Regions from separate parts of the Homo sapiens genome. Here regions 2, 3, 4, 5 and 6 are each reported to be linked to region 1. Evidence: microRNA targets listed by miRTarBase, many of them from high-throughput screens and not tested one by one. Region 1 holds a microRNA gene; each other region holds the end of a gene's coding sequence.
What was found. The annotated mature microRNA hsa-miR-6840-3p reads GCCCAGGACUUUGUGCGGGGUG and lies in region 1 at 1,321-1,342, opposite strand. An mRNA with a match to its seed (bases 2 to 7 or 8) in the 3' UTR can be bound and repressed. Matches are read on the target gene's strand: a 7mer-m8 pairs with bases 2 to 8, a 7mer-A1 pairs with bases 2 to 7 and ends in A, and an 8mer does both.

Region 2: miRTarBase lists ARL14EP as a target of hsa-miR-6840-3p. The part of its 3' UTR that is shown has no 7-base or 8-base seed match.
Region 3: the mRNA of TSPAN11 is a reported target of hsa-miR-6840-3p. Seed matches in the 3' UTR shown: 7mer-m8 at 3,678-3,684, 8mer at 3,199-3,206, 7mer-A1 at 3,184-3,190, 7mer-m8 at 2,957-2,963, 7mer-m8 at 2,477-2,483, 8mer at 2,141-2,148 and 2 more.
Region 4: the mRNA of SCAMP1 is a reported target of hsa-miR-6840-3p. The part of its 3' UTR that is shown has no 7-base or 8-base seed match.
Region 5: miRTarBase lists MRPS21 as a target of hsa-miR-6840-3p. The part of its 3' UTR that is shown has no 7-base or 8-base seed match.
Region 6: the mRNA of RPL34 is a reported target of hsa-miR-6840-3p. The part of its 3' UTR that is shown has no 7-base or 8-base seed match.

What each region holds. Positions count from the first base shown.
Region 1 is chr7:100,353,198-100,358,037 of GRCh38, reverse strand. It overlaps MIR6840 (microRNA 6840), which reads right to left and starts at 1,387; the gene lies at 1,317-1,387. STAG3L5P-PVRIG2P-PILRB (STAG3L5P-PVRIG2P-PILRB readthrough) reads right to left here. Exons shown (of 17, transcript NR_036570.1): 10 at 4,768-4,828; 11 at 4,555-4,665; 12 at 2,798-2,895; 13 at 1,155-1,288. It also overlaps the pseudogene PVRIG2P.
Region 2 is chr11:30,335,949-30,340,788 of GRCh38, forward strand. It overlaps ARL14EP (ARF like GTPase 14 effector protein), which reads left to right. Exons shown (of 4, transcript NM_152316.3): 4 at 619-2,275. The coding sequence ends at 847. Among named protein-coding and RNA genes, the nearest start is that of ARL14EP, 15 kb to the left of the region's middle.
Region 3 is chr12:30,990,984-30,995,823 of GRCh38, reverse strand. TSPAN11 (tetraspanin 11) reads right to left here. Exons shown (of 8, transcript NM_001370302.1): 8 at 1-3,968. The coding sequence ends at 3,909. The region is part of intron 2 of TSPAN11-AS1 (TSPAN11 antisense RNA 1); the gene reads left to right. Among named protein-coding and RNA genes, the nearest start is that of TSPAN11-AS1, 13 kb to the left of the region's middle.
Region 4 is chr5:78,474,982-78,479,821 of GRCh38, forward strand. It overlaps SCAMP1 (secretory carrier membrane protein 1), which reads left to right. Exons shown (of 9, transcript NM_004866.6): 9 at 523-4,840. The coding sequence ends at 687. Among named protein-coding and RNA genes, the nearest start is that of SCAMP1, 120 kb to the left of the region's middle.
Region 5 is chr1:150,307,458-150,312,297 of GRCh38, forward strand. It overlaps MRPS21 (mitochondrial ribosomal protein S21), which reads left to right. Exons shown (of 3, transcript NM_031901.6): 3 at 591-1,522. The coding sequence ends at 771. Among named protein-coding and RNA genes, the nearest start is that of PRPF3, 12 kb to the right of the region's middle.
Region 6 is chr4:108,624,282-108,629,121 of GRCh38, forward strand. RPL34 (ribosomal protein L34) reads left to right here. Exons shown (of 5, transcript NM_001319236.2): 5 at 847-1,089. The coding sequence ends at 931. Among named protein-coding and RNA genes, the nearest start is that of RPL34, 6.1 kb to the left of the region's middle.

The sequences.
Region 1 (4,840 bases):
TCCTTTTTTTTTTTTTTTTTTTAGTAGAGATGGGGTTTTGCCATGTTGGCCAGGGTGGTCTCACACTCATAGGCTCAAGTAATCTGCCCGCCTCAGCCTCCAAAAGTGCTGGGATTACAGGCGTGAGCCACTGTGCCCGGCCTGACTTCAAATCCTGTGTTGAATAGAAGTAGTGAGAGCGGGCATCCTTCTCTTGTTCCTGATCTTGGAGGCAAAGATTTCAGTCTTTCATCTAAAATGACTGAAAGACTTTCAGCCATGGGCCTTGCATGACTGGCCTTTATTTTGTTGCAGTACATTCCTTCTCTTCCTGGTTTGTGGAGTGTTTTACCAGGAAAGGGTGTTCAGGCTGGGCACAGTGGCTCAAGTCACACAAAAGTGTCAAGTCAGCCCTGCCCAAGGGCCCCAGTGCCCATCTTCCTGCTGAGGGGCTGGGCCTCACCTTGGCTGGCTGGGCCCCTCCCACCTGGATCCCTGCAGACCCCACCGCACTCAGCCTCACTTCTCATCCCTTTCTCTGTCCAAGGCCAGCGCAGGCTCTTTCAGGGAGAGGAAAGGCGGGCCTGAGTCTGTGCTCTGCTGCACCCCAGATTCAGTCCTCAGAGAGGAGAAGGAGGAAGCCAGTGGAGGTCACAGGCGCTCAGCCCCCAGCCCAAGCACCAGAGCCCCCAGCTTGTCCTCTGTCCCTCTCCCTCCCTGGCAGGGGCTCCCATGCAGTCCCCAGGCACCACCACAGCCCAGCTGGCCTCTTCCCACCCCAGGCCTGCTCCCTTGGTGCAGGGACCACAGTCTTGCTCAAGGGGTGAGGGGGCTGACGGTCCCCTACACAGAGACTGGTCCCTCTCGAGGCCACCCCTTGACCCCCAGACATGAGACTGGATCTGCAGGGTCCCCTCTGACCTCCCTGCCCTACACAGGAGGGGACAGAGCTTGGAGAAGCCCTGTCCCAGGCCACATGACTTGCAGGGCAGTCCCAGGACTGGAGCCCCCTCTACCTGGATCTCTGGGCCTCAACTTCTGAGTTGCAGGAACTCAGGCATAGGGGAGCCCCAGGAGGTTGTTCCCTCATACAGCCCCTCAGGTCATTCCCTCCACACACCTGAGCCTATGGCTGAACCAGGAAGGTTCCTTGGTGCCAGGGCAGCTGGACTCACCCTGGGTGATGGTGAGGTGGGTCCCCTTGATGGACTGCCACGACAGCCTCCCTGATCTGTATGTCCAGCTGGACTTGGCAGAAGTACACAGACTGGTCCTCCTTCCGCAGGTTCGAGATCCTGAGGAAGCCTCCCTGAGGAAGTGAAGGCTCAGAGCAACAGTGGGCACCCCGCACAAAGTCCTGGGCCCGTCTCTAACAGGGGATCTGCAGGTCTTTGCCCGGGGGTGGTCACTGGAGCTTTGGTGACCCACAGGGCTCCCTCCATAGGAGGCTCTGCCCATCCTCTCCAGAGTAAGGTGGCATCAGCTGAGGGGCCGTGGGGACAGGAAGGCAGGATTTCACCAGAGGAAGTGATAACAATCTTCTTGAGACAGAAGCAGGCAGGGACAGGCCTCCCTTCTCTTGTCAGTCTCTTCCCTGGTCCCAGTAGGCTCCTCTGTGCTTCCCAGGGCCAGTCAGGCCGATCCACCCTCCTTCCCTTCACAGGTCTGAGGAAACAGGCTCCCCATGCTCAGGAAACCCCTCCGTCTGAGCCAGGCCCTATACACCTCATTCTCCTTGTTCAACCCACAGGGAAACTGAGGCACCGGGGCTTTGGACTGAACTGGTCCCACCTGCAAAGGTGGGCCGAAAAGAGGACAAGGGACCCCCTGGCTGTTTGGGCAAGGCCTCAAGAGGGTGGCCCACCCTGCCTGAGGACTTTTTGTTTTTTTTTTTTGAGATGGATTCTCGCTGTGTTGCCCAGGCTGGAGTGCAATGGTGTGATCTTGGCTCACGGTAACCTCTGCTTCCTGGGTTCAAGTAATTCTCCTGCCTCAGCCTTCCAAGTAGCTGGGAATTACAGGTGTGTGCCACCACACCCAGCTAATTTTTATATTTTTAGTAGAGACAGGGTTTCACCATGTTGGCCAGGCTGGTCTCAAACTCCTGGCCTCAAGTGATCTGCCCACCTCAGCCTCCCAAAGTGCTGGGATTATAGGCATGGGATACAACACCCAGCCACTGAGGACTGACTCTTCGTTCCATTCCTGCCTTGCCCGTGGCCCATGGGACCCAGCTAGAAGGTCACCTGCTTACCAGGCTGCCCAAGGAGGGGGCCACATAGAACTTTTAGCCAACAGCCTCTGGGTAGCTCTGGAGGGTACATACTCCCCAGGGGCCTCAGGCCCGGTACCGCCACGTGCATTCTCCTTAGATGCAAGGTGCGTGTTTATGTCACTTTCCGGGCTCTGGACCCAGCTGAACCCCCATGGGAGATTCCTTTTGTGTCAGGATTTCTGCTCTGGAATGGTGTGAGGCCTCCCGGATGGTTCATCCTCCCTCCCCCAACAGCAGTGACAGGGCCTGGGGCTAAGCCTGGGGCTGTGGCTCTCTCTCAGAGGGGGGTTTTGGGAGGCACCGGCCCTGGAGGAGGGCATGATTCCAACATGGGCAGAGTCTAAATCCAGCCCGTTAGCCCAGCAGGTGGCCATGGGAGAGGCATGGGATGCAGTGTTCAGCAGAGGCAGGGAGGGGGCCAGGACCCTGCCCATTTTGAGAACTGCTGCTTGTATGTCCCCACCTTCCCCCAACAACTATCCTCCTTTCCTCACCAGCCACGTCTATGCCTGCCCCAGCCCCTTGCCCCTCCTTGGCACCCACCTTGTTCTTGCTTTCCCCTTGAGATCAGGAATGAGGCACAGATGTCTGCTCTCACTGCCTCCCTTCACGGTACTGGAGTCCTAGCCAGCGCGCTATGCCTGAAGGGAAATACAAGTGCTCTGTGTCTTCTTCAATTCTGTATTGATCTATTTGGCCTCCACCCATCACAGGGCCCATATTATCTATATTTCCTGCATTCTTGGCCTCTTTTTAGTGGGGGACATGGTCTCGCTCTGCCTGTAGGTGGGACTATAGGCACGCACCACAGTTCTCCCCTAATTTTCTTTTTTGCAGAGACGTGGTGTCACTGTTACCCAGGCTGGCCTCAATCTCCCAGGCTCAAGGCATCCTCTCAGTGTGCTGGGATTACACATATGAGCCACAGGGCTGAGCCCCTTGTACATTGCCAATGCTCTGGCATCTGGTGCCTCACTGACTAGGGAGAGACTCCCCCTCCCAGGGGTAGCTGACTGTAAAATTTTTACATCAACTTATTAAATCAGCTGGTCAATTTTGACCCAGAGCCATGCTGAAATTTTGATTAAGAAGCTCCTATTCAGGCGGGGCACCGTGGCTCAAGTCTGTAATCTCAGCACTTTGGGAGGCCAAGGTGGGTGGATCACCTGAGGTCAGGAGTTCGAGACCAGCCCAGCCAAACATGGTGAAACCCGTCTCTACTGAAAAAAAAAAAAAAAATACAAAAATTAGCGGACACGATGGTGCACATCCGTAGTCCCAGCTACTCGGGAGGCTGACGCAGGAGAATCACTAGAACCCGGGAGGTGGAGGTTGAAGTAAGCCAAGATCGTGCCAATGCACTCCAGCCTGGGTGACAGAGCAAGGCTCTGAAATCCAGCCAGATTTCAGGCAAGTCCTCCTACTTTCCAGCCCTGCCTGATGCCAGCTGTGGAAGGAGGGCATCAGGACTCTAGCCCAGGCCACAGCAGGGAGCCCGGCAGAGGGACGCCAGGTCAAATCACAGGGACTTTTCTCAGGCTGAAGCCCCAGGAACCCTTGCTGCTGTCCTAGGACATGGTGGGATTGCAGCAGGGACCATCCCGCTGGGATCCCCCAATTCTGTCTAGGAAGCCACAGGTGTCCCTCAGGAAGCTCCCCCAACCCCCCGCCACCCCAAGAAGCCAGGACAGATCTCTAAGACTGGGACACTGCCCTCTCCCTGGGCCAAACCCAGCCCTGCAAGGAGGCCCCAACCCACTCTGGTTCTCACCTGGCTTCTGCCTCCCAGGGGTGGAGACTTCCTCCCCAATCTCTTCACCCCCAAAGAAGCACAGCCAAGGCCCATGTCAGAGGAACTGTGTTGCTGACTTAGTCACAGCAGGAAACGACTGGAATGGGGTACTGTTGCTCACACACTCACACCTGTGCCCACACACACCCACACATGCACACACACAGACCACATCTGCAGCAGGTGGGCCTGGCCAGGCACCTGTGGGACACTTATTAGAGGCCCAAGAATAACGTAAGGGGGTGGCACCCAGGAGGCCTGGGAAGGGGAAAGCCCAGTGGCCTCATGGTCTCTCTCATTGAACTCCTAAGGGTCCCTCCATGGCCCTGGGCCCCAAGGGTCAGGGAAAAGAGTGAGGCCAGGACCAGTGCAGGGAGGCCTCTGCCCAGCCTAAGCGTAGAGTCCATTCTCAACAGAGACAAAGCTGCCATGTGCAGGGATGGATGTGGAGGCCCAGGCAGCAGGGCCCTGGGGCCAGTGTGCGGTGTGGGTGGGGAGTGATGCCCACCAGGACGGCCCCCTGTCGGGGGTGAGCTGTGTCCAAAGTAGCTGGGCAGCAGCTGGTGTTGATAGTGGCATAAGGGACGTGGAGAGCAGCCTGGGAGGCCTGGCTGGGTGCCTGCGCGGGGGAAGGAGGATCAAGTGAGTCTGTACAGCTTGGGCCCAGCCCTGGCCCCCCCTACCCCTGCCACCTCATCCCCAAAGCAGCCCCCCTCCTCACCCATGCTCGTGCTCTCAGTGCCTAGGAGCTGGTGTGGGATGGCTGGAGCCTAGGGGCAGGGCTGGGAGAGAGC
Region 2 (4,840 bases), not on the chromosome of region 1:
TAGAAATGCAGTTCTGTATAGTCAACATAATGAATGGGAGAACTAAATTGTTTAGAATATGACTCTAAAACAAATGTTAATATAATCATTCAGAATTTTTTTTCTAAGTTCAGTCAACATTTCTATATATGCCATGTATTCCATCTGTTAAAATTTACCATTGAGTCATTTAAATATTTTTAGGCCAAATTTACTAGAGTCCATTAAAGAACAAGAAACATTAATTGTAGTATAAAAATCTATAGAGGTGGTATACTATAATAAAAATAAAACTGTGTTGATAAAACAGTGAAGAGGTTGGTAGCTAATAAAGTGAACCACTATTAACCTGTCATTCTTTTTTGTTTGTTTAAAGTAAAGGGAAAATTATGCACTTCAAGAAGCGTATTCAGAATTTTTAGATTTGTCTCAACACTCTATAGAGTTAGGTCTCCTCTTCTCACATGGAGTTCATTTACTGCTGACGATAGAATAAGCCTTGAGCCTGATAAATTATAGATGATTTTGGCATGACCTCATCTAAAAATATTTTATCTCCTTTTTTTTTTTTACTGTATTTTCAATTAAATCAAAAATAACATATTTATGAGGTATAATTCATTGTGTTTTATTTTACAGACAAGTGATACCAGCAAAGAGTAAGGTCTATGATAGCCAGGGTCTCCTGATTTTTAGTGGGATGGACCTCTGTGACTGCCTGGATGAAGACTGCTTAGGATGTTTCTATGCTTGTCCTGCCTGTGGTTCTACCAAGTGTGGAGCTGAATGCCGCTGTGACCGCAAGTGGCTGTATGAGCAAATTGAAATTGAAGGAGGAGAAATAATTCATAATAAACATGCTGGATAATCTGCGGTACCAAACTATGGAGCCTTTAAAGGTCTTTATTTCTAAAAATCTGTTACTCTAAGATACATTTTAAGCTTGATTATCATATGACAAAGATTTTAAAACCATCTCAGTGTGCCCTAATTTTTCATCTTGGGTGCTTTAAGATTCACTATTTGATATAAATTCAGATAGGCTATTTTTCAGTAGTCAGCGTTAAGCCTGTCTGGATCAATATAAACAAGTAGGGTGTAGGCAGTCCTCTATTTGCATGTTTCCCATGGGCACAAATTTCAGTGACCTAGATTTAGTTTAAATACCAGTTTCCTTACCAGGAAGGAAAGAAAACTGGTAAGGAAACTGTTGTTGTTAAAATCTAGGTTAAAATTTTAGTTAGCACATTGTAACTGAGTAATTACATGAAGTACAAACCTCTCTGCTAGCTCTTCAGTCTACAAATCGCTATGTAAATAACAGATATGCTTCATGATTGTGACCAGTCATGTTATTTCTTTCAAATTCTTCCAGTGGTTTGTCCCTGTGCATCTGTTAATTCAGTTCACGTACAGCAGAGCATGTAGTTATGCTGTCTCTCTGTCATCTACTTGACATTCTATAGAAGTGAACACTCGAAAGAACTGGTCAACAAAGATGAAAGTGCAGCAAAGCAATGAAAAATGATAACACTGGAAGTGAAATTTTAATCAAACATAAATGAATTTGTAGAAGAAGTCACTGACCATGGGAATGTTGTTCTTGCTGCTGTGTATTCATAGGAGCTTAGTGAAGGCAAACTTACCAACACAAATAAGCAAAGTGGTTGCAATAAAGACAGATACGTCCCAGAGGAAGTGATGGTTAAAAAAAAAAAACTTTACATTAAAAGATATTTAATGTGAATATAGAAATATTTCACAACATTGAAAGCACAAGCAATAAAAGGGTGGAAGCTGACCCAAACTTAGAAGGAGTATGGCAGTTTGCCGTGAACATAAAAGATGCTTACTCAGTATGGTAAGTTACTTGCCAGAAAAAAAGGCAAGCCCTATTCAAACTACTTTGTTTTTACAATGAAATAAAACACTTTAATTCTATTTCTAATGTTTTAAATTACAGTGTACTAAATATTTTTAAACATTTTTGCATTTTTTTCTACATTTATAACTGGTCTTAAGAGTTTTTAATATTTGAGCAGAACCTTAAAGGTCATGGAACAATCATCATTTTCCCTATTGATTATTAAGATTGCAGGACCATTTTTATGGTCCCACAGTACCATGTGAAATGAGGATCGCTTGTAGCTGGGAACAGTGCTTACTTCAGGGAAAACTGATTTTGATAGAACCGACTAGTTGAGTATTAAACTGTTTTGGAAATAATTTATATATCTAAGTGCTGAAATATATTTCTCTTCTCCCCACTTATTCAAATAAAAAAGTTTTAATACTATAAACTTTTCATTGTTAGCGCCACGCAGTCCTTGTCAAGATTGTTCTGGGGGACAAAAACTTGATGTATAAAGCATGAATATACACACAGTACTTAAACAGATACCATATCTGTGGTATTAAAATTTTGGGGGTGGTTGATTAGGATTGTAAAAAGACTCCTTAGGGAGTGAGGATGGAAAAGAGAAACACTGGTTAATACAGAGTATAAATAAATTTTTTGGAAATTGATTGCATCTTGATGTTGGAATTTGCTTGGATGCTATTTGGAGGATGGGGGAATGGTATCGTCTCTTTGCTTTTATTTTATTTTTTTTTGAGACAGTCTTACTCTGTTGCCCAGGCTAGAGTGCAGTGGCTCAATCTCGGCTCGCTGCAATCTCCATCTCCTGGGTTCAAGTGATTCTCCTGCTTCAGCCTCCTGAGTAGCGGGGACTGCAGGCGCGTGCCACCACGCCCAGCTTATTTTTTTGTATTTTTAGTAGAGACGGGGTTTCACCATATTAGCCAGGATGGTCTTGATCTCCTGACCTCATGATCTGCCCTCCTTGGTCTTTGCACTTTTTTAAAGACAGCTGTCATTTTGTCTAAAAGCTTTTTGTCACATGGGACATTGCCACTAATCTGGGTTTTGGGGGGTTTTTTGCATCCTAAATACAGTCCTTCAGTTAAATCAAATGTGCTCTTAGCAATTTGAAAGATTTTGTAGCCATTAAAACTCAATTTATGCAGCCAGTTTGAATTGACCATTAGAGGGTTTGTTTGTTTTTTAATTTTTTTGCTTTTAAAATGACTGGTTTTACTTTGAGGGAATGGCATATTCAGCCTTGGAATTACATATTTTTAATAATTTTAACTGTTCACTCACCTGTTACCAGAAGTACATACAGTTAGCTTGTCAGTTCCTTGATCTGTATGATTTACCTGAACACTGGCAAAAGAATATTTCAGCTTTATTCACTTAAGTCAGATGCTAGATTACTTTCTCTAAAGTAAGGAAATACTTCATTATTGAGGACATAAACACTCCAGTTTTATCTGAACATTAGGATCATTAGATCTTAATTGTTTCTACCATCTTTTAGTTTTTCTAAGTATGACAGTGCTTAGGCTTTTCGTAGGGACAAATTAAAATCAGGTTTTTTACTTAAAATAGGAATATTTTTGATGGAATGAATGACTTTAAAATTGCCATATTGCAGCATTTTTTAGAACAGACCTGTAATTTTTCAAAGACTAATACGTTTTTCAAAGGAAAATATTCTTGAGCAATTTTGCTAATATTTGTTCATCATGCCCATTTAGGGAAGCAAACTTTTAATGAGCATACAAAATGTTTACAGAGAAAGGTGTATCTGATTTACAGTAAGCTGTAATAAAGCTATGTTTTGGAAAAATTAAATAATGAGCCCACTTACTATTTTGTAATATAAAATTACAGAAATATGGAATATAATGAAATCATCTAGAGCCTCTTTATATTGTGCATAAATATTCCAGGTGACTATAAATTATTTTAGAATTAATCTAAAAAGCAAAGTTTTATAAACAATTTCTGTTGTGTGTAGATCCTAGTAGAGAAGTTAGGTCACAAATGTTGGTCTCACACAATGTTGGTCACAAATATTAAGGTAGAAATGCATGTATATATTTGAATAAAATGTCATCTCGTGATCTTTTCCTTTTTTTTAAAATATGGAAATAGCTATTTACCTTGTAACATCATATATAGGATTCTTCTCTTTTTAAAGTATTATGTTTAGTTCTATATAACAGGCTGTTATACAACCTGACAGTCTACTCTAAAACTGCCTCCCTGGCGTGATTTCAAGCAAGTAATTTTTAGCAAGTGAATTTTGAAATATCCATATATATATATACAGTGATTCATTATTAAAAACATAATTTTAGTGAGTTCTATTATAGTCTTAACTTTTTGGAAGTAAAAGACCCCTGTGAGAAGGTGATGAAAGCTATGAACTAACTTCCCAGAAAAATATCTGCATTCATGTACTCACAAATATCGATGTTCAGAATTCCTGAACATGTATTGCAGTACCTGGGTAGTATGAAATATTCTGTAAACCATTTTACTTTTTCAGTTGAGTATGGCTAAAGTGTCGGTTGGTTTGTTAAATAGTGTTGTGGGTGGCTGTTTTCAAGAAAAACAAAACCAGAACAGCTCAGTCCTTGAGCTATGACTGCCCTGAAAAATCAGATCCCACTGGCCTCATATACCCCTTCCACCTCCAAAAGGTGATTACACATTGAGTCACAATGTAGAAAACTGATGTCTTATCTGGACTGGATTTTGGTAGAGGTTTTCTACCTCCATGATGTTTGCCCTGCTTATAGCTTAACATTCTTGTGCAAAATTCAGGACACTGCCTTAGTTTTGCTGACATCTGGTATCTTCATGAAAAAAACTGCTCTCAGCTATTACTACTTTCCTTTAATCTCTTAACTTATAAATTTAACTGTGAACATGTAATTATATAATAACCTGCTGAAGTGGATGTTTTTCAAAATCAAATGGTTTCTCTATCATTCTTAGGTCTTGCCCAGC
Region 3 (4,840 bases), not on the chromosome of region 1:
ATGAGAAATTCTGGGGGGTGGGGCCAGCAATCTGTTTGTAAAAGCCCTTCCAGGTGATTCTGATACTCACCGAAGTTTGAGAACGACTGGTTTAGACGCTTGGTCACTATACCCTCAGTGGATGTGAGCCCGGCCCAGCATGGCCAGTATATCAAGAATGTTTTCCAGGTGGGTGACAGGGTGGGTGGTGATGACAGTGACTGTCCCAACTCACTTCTCCAGCCTCAAAACCCTGAAGAGGGCCCAAGTAGCAGATTCTGAAACAAAGCTGGCTCCAAGGCAAGAGGGCCCCGAGGCACATCACAATGATCTACCATATTCCCCCCACACCCCACAGGGCCGTGCTGGGCCCTTCTGGATGTAAACACCTCTGGCCATGCACAGCACAAGCTCCCTGACAGAAATCACACAGGGTCCACCCCAGAGCCCCAGCAATAGCAGGTGCCCCATGCAGGGGGCTAGAAAGAAGGCAGAAAAGGGCCTCACCTGAAGGGGAGGTGGTCAACACAACCCCAGGGTGCCCCTCCCTGCCCAGGGTTGCTCTGGGAGTGGGTGTGACCTGAGGGGTGACCTCCATGTGGACATGAGATTCTGCACCCTGCATGAAGGCCCTGAGGGCTGAGGGACAGTCCCTGCTCTTGCTTTGGGGTCAGTGTTTGTACCTGGGGTGACGGGCTGGGTGGTCGTCACGGGCCTTAGCCCTTTGGGCTCTTGGCCACTGCCTGAGCCCCTGCACCCAGAGGGTCCAGCTGTCAGCCTGAAATAAGCCAGGCTTCTGCACCCCCGGCCCATGTGCCATGGGTGCTGCTTTGTGACAGTGCCCCCTGAGTGACACTCTGTTCCTTAATGACAGCCTGATGGCTCCTTATGGAGATGGAGAACTGGGGGACACTGAGGGGAGGGGTTCCCGGCCCAGTTTTCTTCCTTCTCCCCAGCTGGGGGTGGCAAGACAACAGCCATGACCACTGACAAGCAAGTCTTAACTTTGCCCAGCCTTAATTTCCTTTTATAAAATGGGGGAAATAACACCCTCTTGCTGGGGTAACTGCGAGATAAGTATTTATGGTGACAGATTCTAAGTGCACAGCAGGACCTTGGTAAACACAAAAAAATCCCTGGACACACTCCCCACTTACTCTGCCTGAGGGGCTCCTGGAGATGGGGCTAGGGTGCCGGGGAAGCAGGAGGGAGAAAGACAAGAACGGTCACAAATATTCCAACCCGTCAGCCAAGGCCACGTTTCATTCTTGCCTGCTGTCCTGACACAGGTCACCCAGGGGACTCGGGGACGCGCCCTTCTCTTGGTGTCTGCCCCTGCGAGCTCAGGGAAGGGCAGCATGGAGTGTGCAGGGCAAGAACGTGCCCGTGCCAGCTGGGTGGGATCCCAGCACCTGATGCTGCTTTCCTAGGGCCCTGGTGTGCAGGGGCCTTTTGCCTGCACGGGACTGAAGGTGACATTCCACAGGCGTGTCCTCTCTCTCCAAGGAACTCAAGGCTGTAGCAGCCTCCAAACAGGGGCCCGGGAGGAATTGACCTGGGTATGGATCTGTACCCTCGTCAGCAGGAGGGGCACACCCCGCTGGGGACCACATCGTTGGCTCTGGACTCCAACCATTGTACACTCCCAGGCAGAACCTGCCGTATCCTGGGCCTCTGTTTCCTCTAACCCTGTCTCATCTCCCAGGCTGTTGGCATGGACAAGGAGGTCAGATTTCCAAGCCCTGGGTTGTTCTACCACTGTCTGCCGCTTGGACAAGCCATCTTTCAAGAGGCAGTCTGGCTGGACGACACACAGGGCAGGAATTGCAGCTAATCCTGCCCCAGTCAGGCTGGACCAACCATCCCATGGGGCTGGGGCAGATGGGGCAGGCTGTCCTGGGCCTGCCTTCAATGATAAGGCTGTGCACAGGGCACCTGCCTGTCACCTGTCTTTCATCCCCACCAGGGCAGACAGGTAAGGCCCCAGCACCCCCTGCCCACTGCCGCCTCCCCCTGGCACCTCGGCAGGAAGAACATGGCTCTAGCCCAGTACCCTCTTTCTCTCTCTCACCACTCTCCCTCTGTCGTAAGAGTTGTCAGTTGTGATCTCATCCTTCAGAGAACTTGGGAGTCATAGTCAGTTTTTGATTATCTGCATGAATCCCAGGAGGTTGGAGGGCAGCAATGCTAATCACGCACTATACCATTTCTCTCGGCCTCTGTGCAGTCTGGGATATCTGGTCTTCGTTTTAATGAATTTGCATTGGCAACCCCAGGGCCTTTTAGGCAGGGGAGATAAACCAGCCTAGGCTCCAAGAAGCCACTGGAGAACACCCAGAGAAGAGGAGGCAACCGGCCCCGAGGCTGGGCTTCCCTCTGTCCATGTGGGTACTTCCTGTGCTGAGGATGCAGTTTCTGGACAGTTCAGGGCTCTGTTGGGGTCAGCACTGGGTGGCCTTGAGGCCACTCCTATGTATGGGAGAGAGAGCACGCCTGCCCCAGGACTGGCCTAGGTCAGCAATGTGCTCATCACAGTGCAATCTGGATCAAGCAGGGAGGTGAGCTGGGACCTCGCTCAGCCTTGGCCTTAGCACAAGGTGCCCCCCTTCATGGGGGGAAGTAAGAGGGTCCCGCTCTGGGGAGAAGTGCAGGAGCTGGGGAGGGTGGAAGCCAGGTGTGGGGTTCTTGTGTAGTGAATGGGCTGCCCCTTTGTAATAGCCATTTGGGGGGGTCCCTATGGGTGTTGTACAAAAAGCTGCCAGCATGGATACTCTGTATTTTCTAGGATTTTCTTTCTGTTCTCCCTTATTACTGGGGAAAGTTCTTCCTGAAAATTCCGCAAATTCCCTGCTGAACTTAGTGATGCAAGAGAGAACCCAAGGAAAAAGCTCTGTCCACTCTAGGACAGGTGGGAAGGGAAGCAGAGCTGGACCCCCTGGAAGCAGTGTGGTGGTGGCTACGGGGTCAAGGAGAGGGCCCCAGGAAAAGTGAGGTTCAGGCAGATGCCCCTCTATTCAGAGCTGCCCCTTCTCAGCAGCTCCGACTTTGCAGGGTTGCGAGTTGGTCCACTCCAGGAGATGTTTGACACCCATCAACATTAGGTGCTGAAGATGGTCTGAAACCTGGTGTTCCTGAGAATCAGGCCCCGGAACAGGAGATTCCCGAGGGGCGTATCACTAGAGGCCAGGGCTTGGGGCCATGGTCTCCCAGGGAGGTTTCTCCCAGGAAGGCAGCTAGGCAGGTGCAGGGCTCTGCTCCTAGTGCAGCATGTGCTGGTATGGCCACCTTACCCCCTGCTTCCTGCCAGGGCGGCTCTACCCAGCCTGTGGCTGCCCTACCCAGGCCTCCCCACTCCTAGGCCCTTCAGGAAGGAATGAGGCCAGCAGGACATGGCTTTCCAGGTGAGGCAGTGTGGAGAGTGGGCAGGTCAAAGGGCAAGGTCTTCTGGGGGAAATGCCAGCCCTCCCTGCCCCACCCCATGCTTTTTCCAGAAACAGCAAGGTCAGGGCTTCTGGGCATGGGTGGGGGAATCCCGTGCTGAATGCAGGAGTGCCGGGGTTCCTGGGTTTTCTGCCGATTGTTCCAGGTTCAGGAGCTGGGAGGGAGCAGAGAACCCAACCGCCACCCTCCCGTAGTCCACGGGTGCCCCCGTTCCTGGTGAGGGGCTCTGGTTGTCTCCTGAAAGGATCATTTCCCTGCCCAGGATCTGGCCATGGGGGCTCAGAAATGGAGGAGAGGGGGCCGAGGGTCTCTGCCTGGGTGGGCACAGAAGCTATGGTCTCAGGCACTCGGTGGATTCGCAGGAGCTAGGCACAAAGGAGGGGGCATCTATGGCCCTAGTGGAGCTGGTGCTAACTCTGCAGGCCTTGCAGATGGCATGTGGCCACATGTTGTCTTGAGGGGCAGTTGGAAGAGGAGGTGGTTGGCCATTAGTAAAAATGCCGCTGGAGCCTCTGGTGCAAGCAGCAGGTGAGAACCATCCCGCAGATCTGCCAGGTGGAGAGAGCAGAGGAGCAAAGAGAAATCAGAACTCCTGGAAGCTGCCGGCCCTCAGGGCCCTGGAGCAGTGCTGCTCACTCGAATACCCTGGGGCCTGGGCAAAGGGCAGATTCCTGCTCAAAACTGCTCAAAATGTCAGGGTGGGACCTGAGGTTCTGCATTTCTGACAAGCTCCCAGGTGATGGTGGTGTGCCTGGGGGAACCACATTCTGCCATCTACTATCCAAGAGCAGGGCTTTGCACACTTTAATGGGCATGAATCATCTGGGGACCTCCTTATTACAATTCTTCAGGCCTAGTGGCGGCCTGAGAGTCTGCATTCCTAGCAAGCTCCCAGTTGATGCTGCTGGTCTGTGGTCCTAGATCTTCTCCAGAGATGGCCTGATTTAATTAGGCCCTAAGAGTAATGTTTCCACTCCCTCATCAGAGCTGTCTGAAGTGGACTGTCTCTCTAGGAAAGAGTCTGCCTGTGTTTTGCTGTCCTTAGACTCTAGAGCAAAACTCAGGTCCATCTTCGATGCTCTGGCTGGTGTACAGGAGCCATGGGGGAAACTGAGACTCTGGGAAGAGCCTCCTGAGCTGTCACCCTGTCAGTCAGCATAGAATAAGAGCTGGTGAGCTCACCCTGTCAATCAGTGTAGAATGCAGCACCAAGCTCAGGCCCCAGGCGTCCTGTCTGCCAGCCCTTCTGTCGGTATCCACAGCTGAACAAGGGGCTGGAGCATCTGGTCCAAAGCAGACACAGGCCTGGGAGGATCACCCTGCACACCGCCTTCTCACTTCTCCCACTTCCAGAATGCAGAGGAGCTTTATTCTCCCTCCTTGCTCTTCATGGGCCCTCCTCTGCCTTCTTCCTCCTCTT
Region 4 (4,840 bases), not on the chromosome of region 1:
ATACAGAGTGCATAGCGGCAATATGTTGAAGGACATAAGTAGTGCTTGGTACATTAAATGATAAAATGATCTCATTTGATTATAACAGGGCCTGTGGTGTATATGTAGATAAAATGGAAATAGATAAGGTACTGTTCTCTCTGAATAGTCTGGGGTAATAAATTAATGTATTGTTTCTTGTTATTATGTTTAAACCATTTCATTGTAATGCTGTAATAATTTCACTTGACTAATTGGGTGCAGAGGAAAATACAACTTTTTGAAGTTGGCTAAGAAGTTCTTTATTTTTGGTTTAAATTAGCATAATTATCTCTTCTGCTTGGAGAAGAAAAGGAAAACCTATATTAAGAAAATGTTTAAATACAATTATTGTGTGTCAGTTTGGTGGCTAATATTCTTGATCTTAGGAATCATGACTACAATCTAGTATTTTTATGTTTGATTAATGTTGAGATTAAGAGCTGCTGGAAATGAATGCGTAGGTTGCTACTTACCTTCTCCCACTTTTTTGTGCCTCTGTAGGTACATGGACTATATCGCACAACAGGTGCTAGTTTTGAGAAGGCCCAACAGGAGTTTGCAACAGGTGTGATGTCCAACAAAACTGTCCAGACCGCAGCTGCAAATGCAGCTTCAACTGCAGCATCTAGTGCAGCTCAGAATGCTTTCAAGGGTAACCAGATTTAAGAATCTTCAAACAATACACTGTTACCTTTTGACTGTACCTTTTTCTCCAGTTACTGTATTCTACAAATATTTTTATGTTCAAAACACACAGTACAGACAGCATGGATATTTCCTGTTCACTTGTGCATGGGCTAAAACCAGGAAAACTTCCTTGTCTTATTACTTTACCTAATAGTTTCTTAATATTTCAGTGCCCCTTGCAGAAAAAATATTACATGCTAAATAAATATTCTCCATATTTTTGGGGGATGACATTCAGTGAATTATTTCAGTGGTGACCCACTGAAAATTAATAATGGTACTTATGATTAAAAACGCATTTAATACTAACTGCAGTAGTTCTTTCAAGAATCTTTAGAGATAAGGATTGCACATTGGAAAAGTAAACCATGTTTCATTCCTTTTTCCCTATTTATATTGAAAGAAATAGGCCAGCAGAGACTTAGGGATTTTAAATTGGCTTGCTTTTTAGCTGTTTCAGTCACCAGTGAAGAGCCTATGTGCATTTTGTAGTAGATAATGTAAAATTTGTCATCTTTTTCTTTTCTTTTTTTTAGAATAGCTGATATTTTGATAACAATCTCTAATTTGCATGGGCACCACATTTCTTATATTAAAAGAATTAGTGTTTTGGCTTCTGTACTGCTTATGGTTGTAGGATTCAGGGGTTAATGGAATCACAGAAATGATATTCTGCAAGAATTTCTTTTAAATAAAAAGTTTGGGGGTGCAATATAAGAAGTTTATATAATATGCAGTACATTATCCAAAAGAGAAGGTAGTTAATGCAGTAGAAAGTAGTGGTAATAATTCCTTTTTAAAAAAATTTCGGTAGTCATATAGTAACATTTTGCTATATGAAAACTTTGGTATATTCTGTGGTTACAACTAAGATTGTGTCTGGCAGCTCTTTTTTGGGGATGTGTGTGTGTGATTTTTAACAGAGGTATTAAAGGCTAGCCTAACTGTTGTCTAAAAAGATTGTACAGTATTTAAGGGATTTTCCTTTTAGCTTTTCATCTCCAGTGGCATTAAACATAAAAAGACCCTGGCATTTTTTCACATACTTGAATCCCTAAATGCACCTGTCTTTCACTTTTTGAGACAGACTGAATATATCTAAAATTTCCAGCAATAAAAAAAAAAGCATTTAACTTGCACCAAGCAAGAAAATATAAATACAGTTAACTGCATTAAGATAATCACGTTAAAATTGTTACTATGCAGCACAGAACTTCATTCTTATAGTATTCTTGGGTTCAACCTTTGAATCAATTTTACCACTGATTAAATAAATGACTCAAAGACATCTGTAAGTCATGCTGCTGTGTTTTGAAAGTCTTTAACTAAATTAAGATTGCAGAATGATAGTGATTATTCAATTAGATTTTAAGTAAGGATTGTGATATTAGAGGCTGGAAATCCTTATTTTTTAAAAAATCAGATAGGCATAAATAGTTAAATCACTTTCATTCTCCCCAAACCTGTAGTTACAGAAAAAGTTTTATGCTAGAGGTGGGATGCCAAGTTTTCACTATCCATGAAGCAGCGCTGCATGTCACTAGGTAACACAGATCCATCCAGATGGTGTTTACATTTGATTTATTTGGGATCTTATTGACATCAGGTATACTTGGAAGACATTTCTTTTATTCTTCAGCGTATGAATTTAAAGCTATTTTTTGTAAATATTTCTAATCAGCGATAATTTCTACCTATGTTCTCAACCAACTTAGCCAGTTTGTTTTTCAGAGCCTGTAGTCTTATTGGAAATCTATTTTATCAGTGTGCTTTATTGAGTGTGGATTTTGCATACATTCAAAACATTAACCACAAAATACAGCAAGTGCACCTATATTCACCATTAACTTATATCCCAAGTCCATTTTTTCCTGTACACTACAAACAAAAGATATATTAGAGACTTTTGAAAAATGCTGAAATACTTTGCTTCAGAATTGGAATGTTTATATTATGTAGAAATCTTCAAAGGTAGCATTATTAAATAGCAAAGAATAATTAGAACCCACATATCTTTTTTTGTGTGGATGGGGAAAATGTTTTAAAATCCAGTTATTTAATATGAGTTTGAGAGAGAAAATTGTTTTTTAAAAATATATGTGCATTGAAATGATGGCAATGCTTATAGTATGATCAAGTATGAAAGGAACTTTAAATTCTTATATTTACTTTTCTCTCAGTAAATTGTTAAATTTTCACTCAGCAAAAGATTGGCATTTGTTAAGTGTTCTATATTTAGTACTAAAATCACAGTCATGAAATCATAGTCATAAAATGGTCTTCACACAGCAGTCATCCGTGTCATTTATCATTTTGTAATATTAAATTATGGCAATTTTATTTCAAACTAAAGTTTGAACACCGGAAAGTCATTACTCAGTGATTTGTAATTTGGGACTTGGATTATTTATCTAGAGATGTTTGTATATTTTGTCAGTAACTAATACTGCGCTGCCATCATGGTGACTGTCATGGTTCTACAGAAATGCCCTCCATGTGTCCCTCTAATGTTGCATGTTTCAGTGGGTTGGAAGTTTTGTATATTTATTGTATTAACACAGAGTGTCATAAAATAAAATGCTGTTTACTGGATGTTTGTTTGTATAATTTTGAACACTATAATAGCAATTCAGAGACAGACATTGTTAAAGGTTTGATGTATATAGAAATTCCATGTTTGATTTTTTAAAATATGTGTATAAGTCTGTCATGTGCTAAACAAAATAATATGAAAGACCTAGTTAAAAATTCTAACCAATGTAAAATGACCATTTTTCTGTTGCATTAGACCTTTACAGGTAATGGAACATGAGCTTCACCCATATTAAATATTTTGGCCCCTTTAAGGTCAAAATACAGATCATCTAGAAGTTAGATTCAAAATGGAAAACCTATTCATGGCTCAGATTTTTCATTGTGGGTTAAAAATGGGTGTCTCTGTACTAGTATTGTATTTATTCAATTGAACTTGTATTCTGATTTCTATCCTTGCTACCTATTGCTGTTTTATGTACTGATGAAAGTACCTATTTGTGTATATTGGATTTTTCACTTGGTTAGCTAAAGAAGATGTAAAAATATCTAAAATAATGTTCATGGTGAATCTTATTTTGAGAAATACATGTTAAAAAAGGAACAGTATTCTTTATTTTCTGGGTGTTATATTTAAAAAAGCAAGTTTGGATTTTTACACCTAATTTACTAGGAAAATATTTTATTCTGTAATTCATGTTAAGATTATGTATGGTTTGCATTTTAAGGGGATTTATGTTAGGTTAATTAGTTGTTTCTGTAAATCATTTGTAATAGCATAGTGCTTTTTACTCATTGCTGTATCTTTTTCTGAAAACACTGTTGTTAACATCTAATTCAGTATCCTTATTGGTACAAATCTGTGTTTGGCATGACTGTTTATATACAGAATTTGTTACATTTTGAGCATTTTTTCCCCTGCTTATGTATACCTTAGAGTTACCATGGCTGTCATATACCATTTCACTATATCTCCTTTCAGTTTTTCCTTAAGGAAAATGTTTAGAGGAATTTGTTCATTTCATGTGATTAAGCCCTTTAGAGATGAAATAAGATTGGTTAATTTTAAAAAAATTGAGGATGGTTAAAAAATAGAAAACACCTTACTTTGATACATTTTAAAGTACAATAGTATACATTTATTTAGAGTAGACTAATGTGTTTAAAACATGAGTTGTTTTAAATACTTTTTTATTGAGCTAAAAAGTTTTATCTCACATATTAAGTATTACAGAAAGTGAAGTATTTTGGCTAGAATTTTAGGGCATATTTTATAAAGCAGCATGCCTGTAATATTGGTGGGTATTTTTAAACTTTAGGACTTTATCACAGTATGTAGAGAGCTAGAAATAAATCTAGAAACTTTCTAAGCCAGGTATTGCCACTAACCTGTCTTATATAAGCAGATACCTCTTATTTGAAGATTGTAGGAAAATAGAGAAAGACTGTTCTCCAGTTTTCTCACCCCCGCTGTGGGTTTTATATTTACAATTTAACTTTGGGGTTTGGGTAAGACAAACATTTAATGTATAGGATTTTGGCCAGGTGTGGTGGCTCACGCCTGTAATCCCAGCACTTTGGGAGGCCAAGGTGGGCGGAT
Region 5 (4,840 bases), not on the chromosome of region 1:
ATTGATCCTCCCACCTCAGCCTCCTGAGTAGAGGGGACTACAGGCATGTACCACCATGCCTGGTTAATGTTTGTATTATTTGCAGAGACGGGGTTTTGCCGTGTTGCCCATGCTGAACAATATTTTTTTTCTTTTTTGAGACAGGGTCTTATTCTGTCACCCAGGCTGGAGTACACTGGTGCAAACACAGCACACTGCAGCCTCAGTCTCCCCTGGGCTCAAGTGATGCTCCCACCTCAGCCTCGTGAGTCGCTAGCACTACAGACACATATTACGAAGCCTGGCTAATTATTTTTATTTTTTGTAGAAACAGGGTTTTGCCATGTTGCCTAGGCTGGTCTCAAACTCCTGGGCTCAATCTGCTCACCTTGGGCTCCCAGGGTGGTGGGATTACAGGCATGAGCCACTGCACCCGGCCCACAGATTCTTATTGAGGCCTTTGTAAGTAGGCAGTTAATGCTCTATTGCCACCATTTCCCACTGTATTTTTTATAAATACCAATTGTTTGGTCAATCGACTTCTATTTATGAAACTGGAAAAGAATAATGATGATCCCAAATGTCTAACCTCATTGCTTGCCTTTATACAGAATCCTCACTATGGATGGGCTCATTGAGGACATTAAGCATCGGCGGTATTATGAGAAGCCATGCTGCCGGCGACAGAGGGAAAGCTATGAAAGGTGCCGGCGGATCTACAACATGGAAATGGCTCGCAAGATCAACTTCTTGATGCGAAAGAATCGGGCAGATCCGTGGCAGGGCTGCTGAGGCCTGTGGGTGGGACACCCAGTGCGAAACCCTCATCCAGTTTTCTCTCCATCTCTTTTCTTTGTACAATCCCATTTCCTATTACCATTCTCTGCAATAAACTCAAATCACATGTCTGCAAGAAGGCCTCCAAATATAGAAACAATCCCATTAGTCAGCAGTGGACCCTGTCTTTTATTAAGTGAAAGAAGAAACTGAGTCTGAAAGTACTCTAGGAGTAGAATGGTATTTGCCAGGGACTGGAGGAGGGGGCAGTGAGGAGTTATTGTTTAATGGGTACAGAGTTTCAGTTTGGGCAGATGAAAAAGTTCAGGAGACGATGGCCTGGCATGGTGGCTCACGCCTGTTATCCCAACACTTTGGGAGGCTGAGGCGGGCGGCTCACTTGAGGCCAGGAGTTTGAGACCAGCTTGGCCAATGTGGTGAAACCCCATCTCTACTAAAAATACAAAAAAAAATTGGCCGGGCGTGGTGGTGCACGCCTGTAATCCCAGATACTTGGGTGGCTGAGGCAGGAGAATTGCTTGAACTGGGGAGGAAGAGGTTGCAGTGAGCCAAGATCATGCCACTGCACTCCAACCTGGGCGACAGAGTGAGACTCCATCTCAAAACAAAAAAACGGAGATGGATGATGAATGGTGATGGCGGTTGCTCAAAAAGTTGAATGTACTTAATGCCACTGAACTATACCCTTAAATGGTCACGATGGTAAATTTTGTGTTTTACTACAATAAAAACTTTTTTGAAAGTCCAGGAGAAGTAAGGAATTTTTTTTTCTTTTTTTTAAGAGGAAGTCTCGCTCTTGTCCCCCAGACTGGAGTGCAATGGTGCAGTCTAGGCTCACTGCAACCTCCGCCTCCTGGGTTCAAGTGATTCTCCTGCCTCAGCCTCCCCAGAAGCTGGGACTACAGGCACCTGCCACCACGCCCAGCTAATTTTTGTATTTTTAGTAGAGACGGGGTTTCACCATGTTGTCCAGGCTGGTCTCGAACTCCTGACCTCAGGTGATCCGCCCACCTCGGCCTCCCAAAGTGCTGGGATTATGGGCATGAGCCACCATACCTGGCTGGTAAATTTTTTTTTTTTTTTTGTAGATGGAGTCTCGCTCTGTTGCCCAGGCTGGAGGGCAGTGGGACAATCTCAGCTCACTGCAAGCTCCGCCGCCTGGGTTCACGCCATTCTCCTGCCTCAGCCTCCCCAGCAGCTGGGACTACAGGCACACGCCGCCACGCCCGGCTAATTTTTGTGTTTTTAGTAGAGATGGGGTTTATCTGTGTTAGCCAGGATAGTCTCGATCTCCTGGTCTCGTGATCCCCCTGCCTTGGCCTCCCAAAGTGTTGGGATTACAGGCGTGAGCCACTGCGCCCGGCCGGAAAATTTTTTTAATGTAGTGAAATATGTCTACCATTTCCTACCCAATTTTTTTGAATCCCCAAGCAAAATCTTACTGAGAAAGCATCTATTACTTTTTATTAAACTGTTCCATGTTAGGTAGAGAGGAGAAGATGCATGTATGTATTTGGAATAAATTCTGCTTCTGAAAACACCTATCAACCAGACTAGAGTGCTGGAATCCTTGCCCAAAGAAATTCTTAAATCTACCCTAATGTTCATTCCTGTTTTCTGTCCTTTTAGTTTTCCTAACAGAGACTAAGAGAGGGATGGTGGAGAAGAAATAAAGCAATAGATGGGTGGGACTCAGTAGATAGTAGGAAAGAGGGAATGGAGCGTTGAGAGAGAATGGCACAGAGCCAGAAATACCCACAAAGCAGTGCTTCTCAAAGTGTCAGATCAGCAGCATCAATTTCACCAGAGGGATTGCTTGAAATGCAAATTATGGGACCCTACTTTAGATCTTCGATATTGGAAATTGAGGTTGGAGCCCAGCAATCTATTTTCACAAGCCTTGCAGGTGATTCTGATGCCTGCTAGAGTTACAACCACTGCCCTTTGCAGTACTCAAAGAGACTTCAAGTGGAGGTTCCCACCATCACTGCCTCTACCCAGCAGTCACTCCTGATTATTTTACTCTTGACAGCTGCGGAAACTGACCACTGTGGGAAGACCAGCTGCTCTGCTTTTTCTCCTGCTGTTTCCTCCACCATTGGTTGGCTGACAGCCGTGTTGCTATTATTAAGAGTCGGTGCCAGGCCGGGTGCCATGGCTCACGCCTGTAATTTCAGCACTTTGGGAGGCTGAGGCGGGCGGATCACGAGGTCAGGAGTTTGAGACCAGCCTAGCCAACATGGTGAAACCCTGTCTCTACTAAAAATACAAAAAAATTAGCTGGGCGTGGTGGTAGGCGCCTGTAATCTCAGCTACCTGGGAGGCTGAGGCAGGAGAATCACTTGAACGCAGGAGGTGGAGGTTGCAGTGAGCCAAGATCGCGCCTGGCGACAGAGCAAGACTCGGTCTCTTTTAAAAGTTGGTGCTGGCCAGGCACAGTGGCTCACGCCTGTAATCCCAGCACTTTGGGAAGCCGAGGTGGGCGGATCACAAGGTCAGGCGATCGAGACCATCCTGGCTAACATGGTGAAACCCCGTCTCTACTGAAAATACAAAAAAGTTAGCGGGGCATGGTGGCGGGCGCCTGTAGTCCCAGCTATTTGGGAGTCTGAGGCAGGAGAATGGCGTGAACCCGGGAGGCAGAGCTTGCAATGAGCCGAAATCGCGCCACTGCACTCCAGCTTGGGCAACGGAGCGTCCCCAAAAAAAAAAAAGGAAAAAGAAATAGATCTGCTCCTTTCCCTCATTTTGGAGAAAATCTGTATACAGGCTGCCTTCAACTTTGTTCCCTTTATACAACCTAGTCTTAACAAACAAGATATGACACTTCTGAGTCACCTTTAAATCTGAATCTGAGGCCGGGCGCGGTGGCTCACGCCTGTAGTCCCAGCACTTTGGAAGGCCGAGGAGGATGGATCACGAGGTCAGGAGAGCAAGACCATCCTGGCTAACACGATGAAACTCCGTCACTACCTTTTTTTTTGTTTTTTGTAGACGGAGTCTCGCTCTATTGCCCAGGCTGGAGTGCAGCGGCGTGATCTCGGCTCACTGCAAGCTCCGCCTTCCGGGTTCACGCCATACTCCTGCCTCAACCTCCCGAGTAGCCAGGACTACAGGCGCCCGCCACCGCGCGTGGCTAATTTTTTTTTTTAATTTTAGTAGAGACGGGGTTTCACCGTGTTAGCCAGTATGGTCTTGATCTCCTGACCTCGTGATCCACCCGCCTCGGCCTCCCAAAGTGCTGGGATTACAGGCGTGAGCCACCGCGCCCGGGAGGCTGAGGCAGGAGAATGGCGTGAACCCCGGAGGCAGACCTTGCAGTGAGCCGAGATGGCGCCACTGCACTCCAGCCTGGGTGACAGAGCGAGACTCCGTCTCAAAAATAAATAAATAAAATAAAATAAATCTGAATTTGGTCTTTAGTACATTTTAATGATATTGAGCCATAATATAGTGTCATCTACCACAGTGGTAAGGCATGTTTGTGATAACAGAATCAGGCCTGTTACTTGGCATTATTCTCCTGGGGCTAAAGTTGCTTCTGAGCTCCCTCCAAAATACTAAGAGGTGGCTGAGATTTGAAATTTTCTTTGTCTCTAAAAATTATCCCCCGCTTGTTTTAATCTTCAGTCCTATTGCCCATGCTCCCCTAGAGCAATGAACAATGATGGGTTTTAGCAGCTAGCCAGTTGAGAGGCCTCATAAATGCGATAAGTGGCTGGATAAAGTTCCAATCTGCTTATGCTGTGATGATAGGGAGAAAAACTTTCCACTCCTTGCTCTGGGAAGCTAGAAGATAATTTGCATGGTAGTTTAATGAGTAGGGGTTGCACTAATCTTTTAATCCCTGCATTGATTTCAGAGGAGGGGTGGTTTGCTGTTTACCCAGTTACAGAATGATAGGTAAGTACCTCCTACCCTAAACTTGGGCACCTATGAAATCTCTTACCTGTTTAGTGAAGTGCCTCTGACAGGCCTGCTCCAATCATAATTTAAAGATCTCGTAATCTAGTGCTCTGGAATCAGCTACCCCTTTAAAATTGGGACTCTGTTGAGTAATTTG
Region 6 (4,840 bases), not on the chromosome of region 1:
GTGTCTCTGATAGGATCACATGGGGGAGATTTGAAGAAATTAGAAAACCCAGAGTTTTGAGGGTAGGGTTTGATAACCAGGTTTACCAATGGGAAATGGGGTGGGGGAAGGTTTAAGTTGAAGCAAGAGGAGTGCTTTAAACTCTGGTGGTAACTCTGATTTAACAAATGCTAGGAAGACCTGCTTTTTGCTAGGTCCTGTGCAACACTGTAATGATAGTGATCCATAAAATGCACTCCTAGATGGAGGCTCAAAGTCTAGAAAATCTTTCCAAATTTAATCCTCATAAACTCCCTGTTAAATACGTGTGAAACTATTTTGTGCCTTAATATAGAGAAGGTAACTTGTCCAGTGTGCAGCTAGTGTGTGGTGGAGTTGGCCGTAAACAGGTTCTAAAATCCTTGCTCTTGGTGAGGTGTCTCTTGCTAATATCCCTTTACCTTTTAATTTTAGTTCTTAACACATAGCCCCTTATGTGTTGTTTTTTACTGGGAATTTTCAAAAATATGGTTAAAATATTCTAAGACATTTTGCAAATCAAGAAATACCACTATTCCTGGATCCTAACAATAAATTAGAGCTCTCATAAGTGGTCTCCTGTGGGGATGACTTCATAGTTTATCTTGACTCAGAAGGAGGACAGATAACTACTGGCATGAAATTGAAGGATTATCCTGCTTTAAATGAATTTCACCTTTTAAGTTTTACTCTGTATTTGTGTATCCTGTAGTTTCCTGGGTTCCCTGATTGCTTTGCTTGGTTCTTTACCATGTTTGCCTTCTCTGTGCTAAATAAAAAATGAAGTTCATTTTAAAGAAATGATTAATTTGGTATTTTCCTTTCTAGGATCAAGCGTGCTTTCCTTATCGAGGAGCAGAAAATCGTTGTGAAAGTGTTGAAGGCACAAGCACAGAGTCAGAAAGCTAAATAAAAAAATGAAACTTTTTTGAGTAATAAAAATGAAAAGACGCTGTATGTATGACTTTTTTTTTTTCTGTTGTAATGTGTTAGTATACAGATTTTGTTTCTGTATGGTATTTGGGGACCCTATAGTTTTTAGCAGATTACTTTTTCTTGTTTTGTTTGTTGTTTGTTTGTTTTTGGTTTGGTTTGGTTTTTTTGAGACGGAGTTTCTCTCTTGTTGCCTAGGCTGGAGTACAATGGCAGGATCTCGGCTCACCGCACCCTCTGCCTTCCAGGTTCAAGTGATTCTCCTGCCTCAGCCTCCCAAGTAGCTGGGATTATAGGCATGTGCCACCATGCCTGGCTAATTTTGTATATTTTAGTAGAGACGAGGTTTCTCCATGTTGGTCAGGCTGGTCTCAAACTCCCGACCTCAGGTGATCTGCCCACCTCGGCCTCCCAAAGTGCTGGTGTTAAGGTGCGAGCCGCAGCACCCAGCCAGTGGGTTACTTTTTCTGAAGAAACAGTTGGTGGTCACTGATGGCCAGAATTTTTTTGGTGACAGCTCTACCGCTGCATTGGAGCATAATGTCCTTCTCTTTGTGGGCTGAGACTTCAGGGTGGTTTGGGAGGAATGGCCCTTCTATTTGAAACTTTAATATCCCTTTGATCCTTACTATGGTATCTCCTTTACGTCAGCAAGTTTCATAGGATAGAAACCTTGGTATTCTAGTTCCTTGGAATGGAACCTTTTTAAGATTGTTTTTAAACCCTCTGTTCTTTTAGGTCACTTCAGTTCAAAAATGGTATCTTGGAGAGCTCAGAACTCCTTATTTAACAAATGAGTGAGCTACTATATATAAAACCTTGGGTCAAGGGTATAGTTTCTGATCTACATTGGATTTATTATCCAGGCCAGAATGTTAAAATACAGACCTCATTTTTCTTGGGAACTATGTAGTGTTTCTGCCAGCTCAGACAAGGTTTCACTCCTGCTGCCCAGCCTGGAGTGCAATCTTGGCTTGCTGCAACCTCCACCTCCTGGACTCAAGTGATTCTCTGCCTCAGCCTCCCAAGTAGCTGGGACTACAGGTAGGCACCACCATGCCTGGCTCATTTTTGGTTTTTTGAGAAACAGTTTCACCATGTTCCTAGGCTGGTCTCAAAACTCCTGGGCTCAAGCAGTCTGCCTGCCTCAGCCTCCCAGCGTGCCAGGATTACAGGCATGAGCCATTCTTCTGCCCAACCTGTTGGCTGACAACCTTTTTTTTTTTTTTTTTTTTTGAAATGGAGCCTTGCTCTTGCCCAGGCTGGAGCGTACTGGCTCGATTTCGGCTCACTGCAACCTCCACCTCCTGGGTTCAAGCAATTCTGCCTCAGCCTCCTGAGGATTACAGGCGCCCACCACCACACCCGGCTAATTTTTGTATTTTTAGTAGAGATGGGGTTTTGCCATATTGGCCAGGTTCATCTTGAACTCTTGATCTCAAGTGATCCGCCCACCTTGGCCTCCCAAAGTGCTGAGATTACAGGCGTGAGCCCTTGCACCCGGCCAACACCATCTCTTAAAGCCATAACAAGCTTTATTCCAATCTGAGTAGAGAGCAGAGACCTTGAGCCATCATGGAATGCAGAAGCTGAAAGTACCTGGGGAGTTCAGTAAATTTTGACTATTTTCCTCAGTTGAGGAAAATTTACCTACTAACTGGCATGATGTAACTACTTAAGCAGAGGAGAGTTACCGCTTAGCTATACATAAGAACATGCTTTTCTGGCTGGACGCCGTGGTTCATGCCTGTAATCCCAGTACTTTGGGAGGCCAAGGCGGGCGGATCATGAGGTCAGGAGATCGAGACCATCCTGTCTAGCACGGTGAAACCCCGTCTGTACTAAAAATACAAAAAACTAGCTGGGCGTGGTGGTATGCGTCTGTAATCCCAGTTACTCGGGAGGCTGAGGCAAGAGGATTGCTTGAACCCGGGAGGCAGAGGTTGCAGTAAGCCAAGATCGCGCCACTGTACTCTCGCCTGTGCGACAGAGCGAGACTCGGTCTCCAAAAAAAAAACACCTTTTCTTAGGCCAGACCCAGTGGCTCACCCCTATAGTCCCAGTCTCAACACTTGGGATGCTGAGGCAGGAGGATCACTTGAGGACAGGAGTTGGAGACCACCCTGGGCAGCTTGGCAAGACCCTGCCTAAAAAATAATTAAAAAATAAGAATACCCCTTAAGGTAAAAGGCAAAAAAAATGGGATTTCATAACACCTTTACTGTACCCCACTGCCAGTTAACTTGTTCTTGGTATAAAAAATTTTTAATTAGTGTTTTGCAGAAGAGGAGTCACAGAACTAGTAAGTGGCAAAGCTGGCAGTTGAACTCCCTTTTAAGAATTTAACCGCCAGGCGCGGTGGCTCACGCCTGTAATCCCAGCACTTTGGGAGGCTGAGGCAGGTGGATCACCGGAGGTCAGGAGTTCGAGACCAGCCTGACCAGTATGGTGAAACCCCGTCTCTACTAAAAATAACAAAAATTAGCCAGAAGTGGTGGCATGCACCTGTAATCCCAGCTATCAGGAGAATGAGGCAGAAGAATCGCTTGAACCTGTGAGGCAGAGGTTGCACTGAGCCGAGATTGCACCACTGCACTCCAGCCTGAGTGACAGTGAGACTCCTCAAAAAAAAAAAAAAAATTTAATTTTAACCACAGTACACTTGATTGGCTGTGTGCCTGACTCCACCAAATTTGTTTTAGTCCTCCCAGCAACTCCAACAGCTTTATTCCCATTTTACTGATGAGAGAACAGACACAGGTTATAGAAAACCCAGAGCCATTTGTATTGTTGGTAGGATTTTTGCAGCTGTGTTAGTGAATAAGTGTAATGACCGGGCACCCTAATAAATGCTAGCATAATCAATGATAGCTGGGATCCCTGTTGTCAACATTCATAGTCTCAAACGATTGAGATACATTAGCTTTCTCCAAACACCTGCCAATCCCAAAGATTGTTAAGCAACCAGGATAATAGAATTAATTATCTTGTATAATGTTTAATCACAGTATTGAAAATATAAAACGGGGATAGAATTGAAAAGCTTGAATTCTAAGGCAGATTTACATCACTTTCTCATGATTCAGGCTTATATATACTGCACCAAGCAGTTCTGTGACTGTGTTTTATTGTATTTGATATAACCATCTAAAAATTGGCACTTTTAATAATATACTCAGACAATAATGTGGCTTAAAACTTAAACTAATTGGCTGCTCTGTAGGCCAGTCTAGTTTTTGAAAGGTTTGAGATGTAATTTCTGAAAAAATTGCTGTGGAAGAGAAAGCCTATTTGCCACCCCAACCTGAGTTCTTGCTGGTGGAAGGAGGCTCCTCCCTCTCCTTGCTGCTCCAAGTTAGGTAGAACAACATGACTGGACACAGGCTCTAGCTGGTGGGAACTAGCAAGTTTCAGCAAAATATGAAATGGGTGACCTTTGAGAAATGTAAGGAAGTTAAAGAATTGAGGTGTACATTCTTTTCCAAGAATTCTTGGTATGTTAAATGGTTTTACTTAACAAACAGCTTTGTAGACTATTTGGAAAGTTTGGAAAAATAGAATGATAAAAAATCTCAATTTCACTACTTACTATTATTATTATTATTTTGGAGACAGAGTCTCACTCTATCACCCAGGCTGGAGTGCAGTGACGCGATCTCAGCTTACTGCAACCTCCACCTCCTGGGTTTAAGCCATTCTGCCTCAGCCTCCCGAGTAGCTGGGATTACAGGCGCCTGCCACCACATCTGGCTAATTTTTGTATTTTTAGTAGAGACGGGTTCGCCATGTTGGCCAGGCTGGTCTCGAACTCCTGACCTCAGAATGTCCGCCCGCCTCGGCCTGCTAAAGTGTTGGGATGACAGGCTTGAGCCACCACGCTGGGCCACTA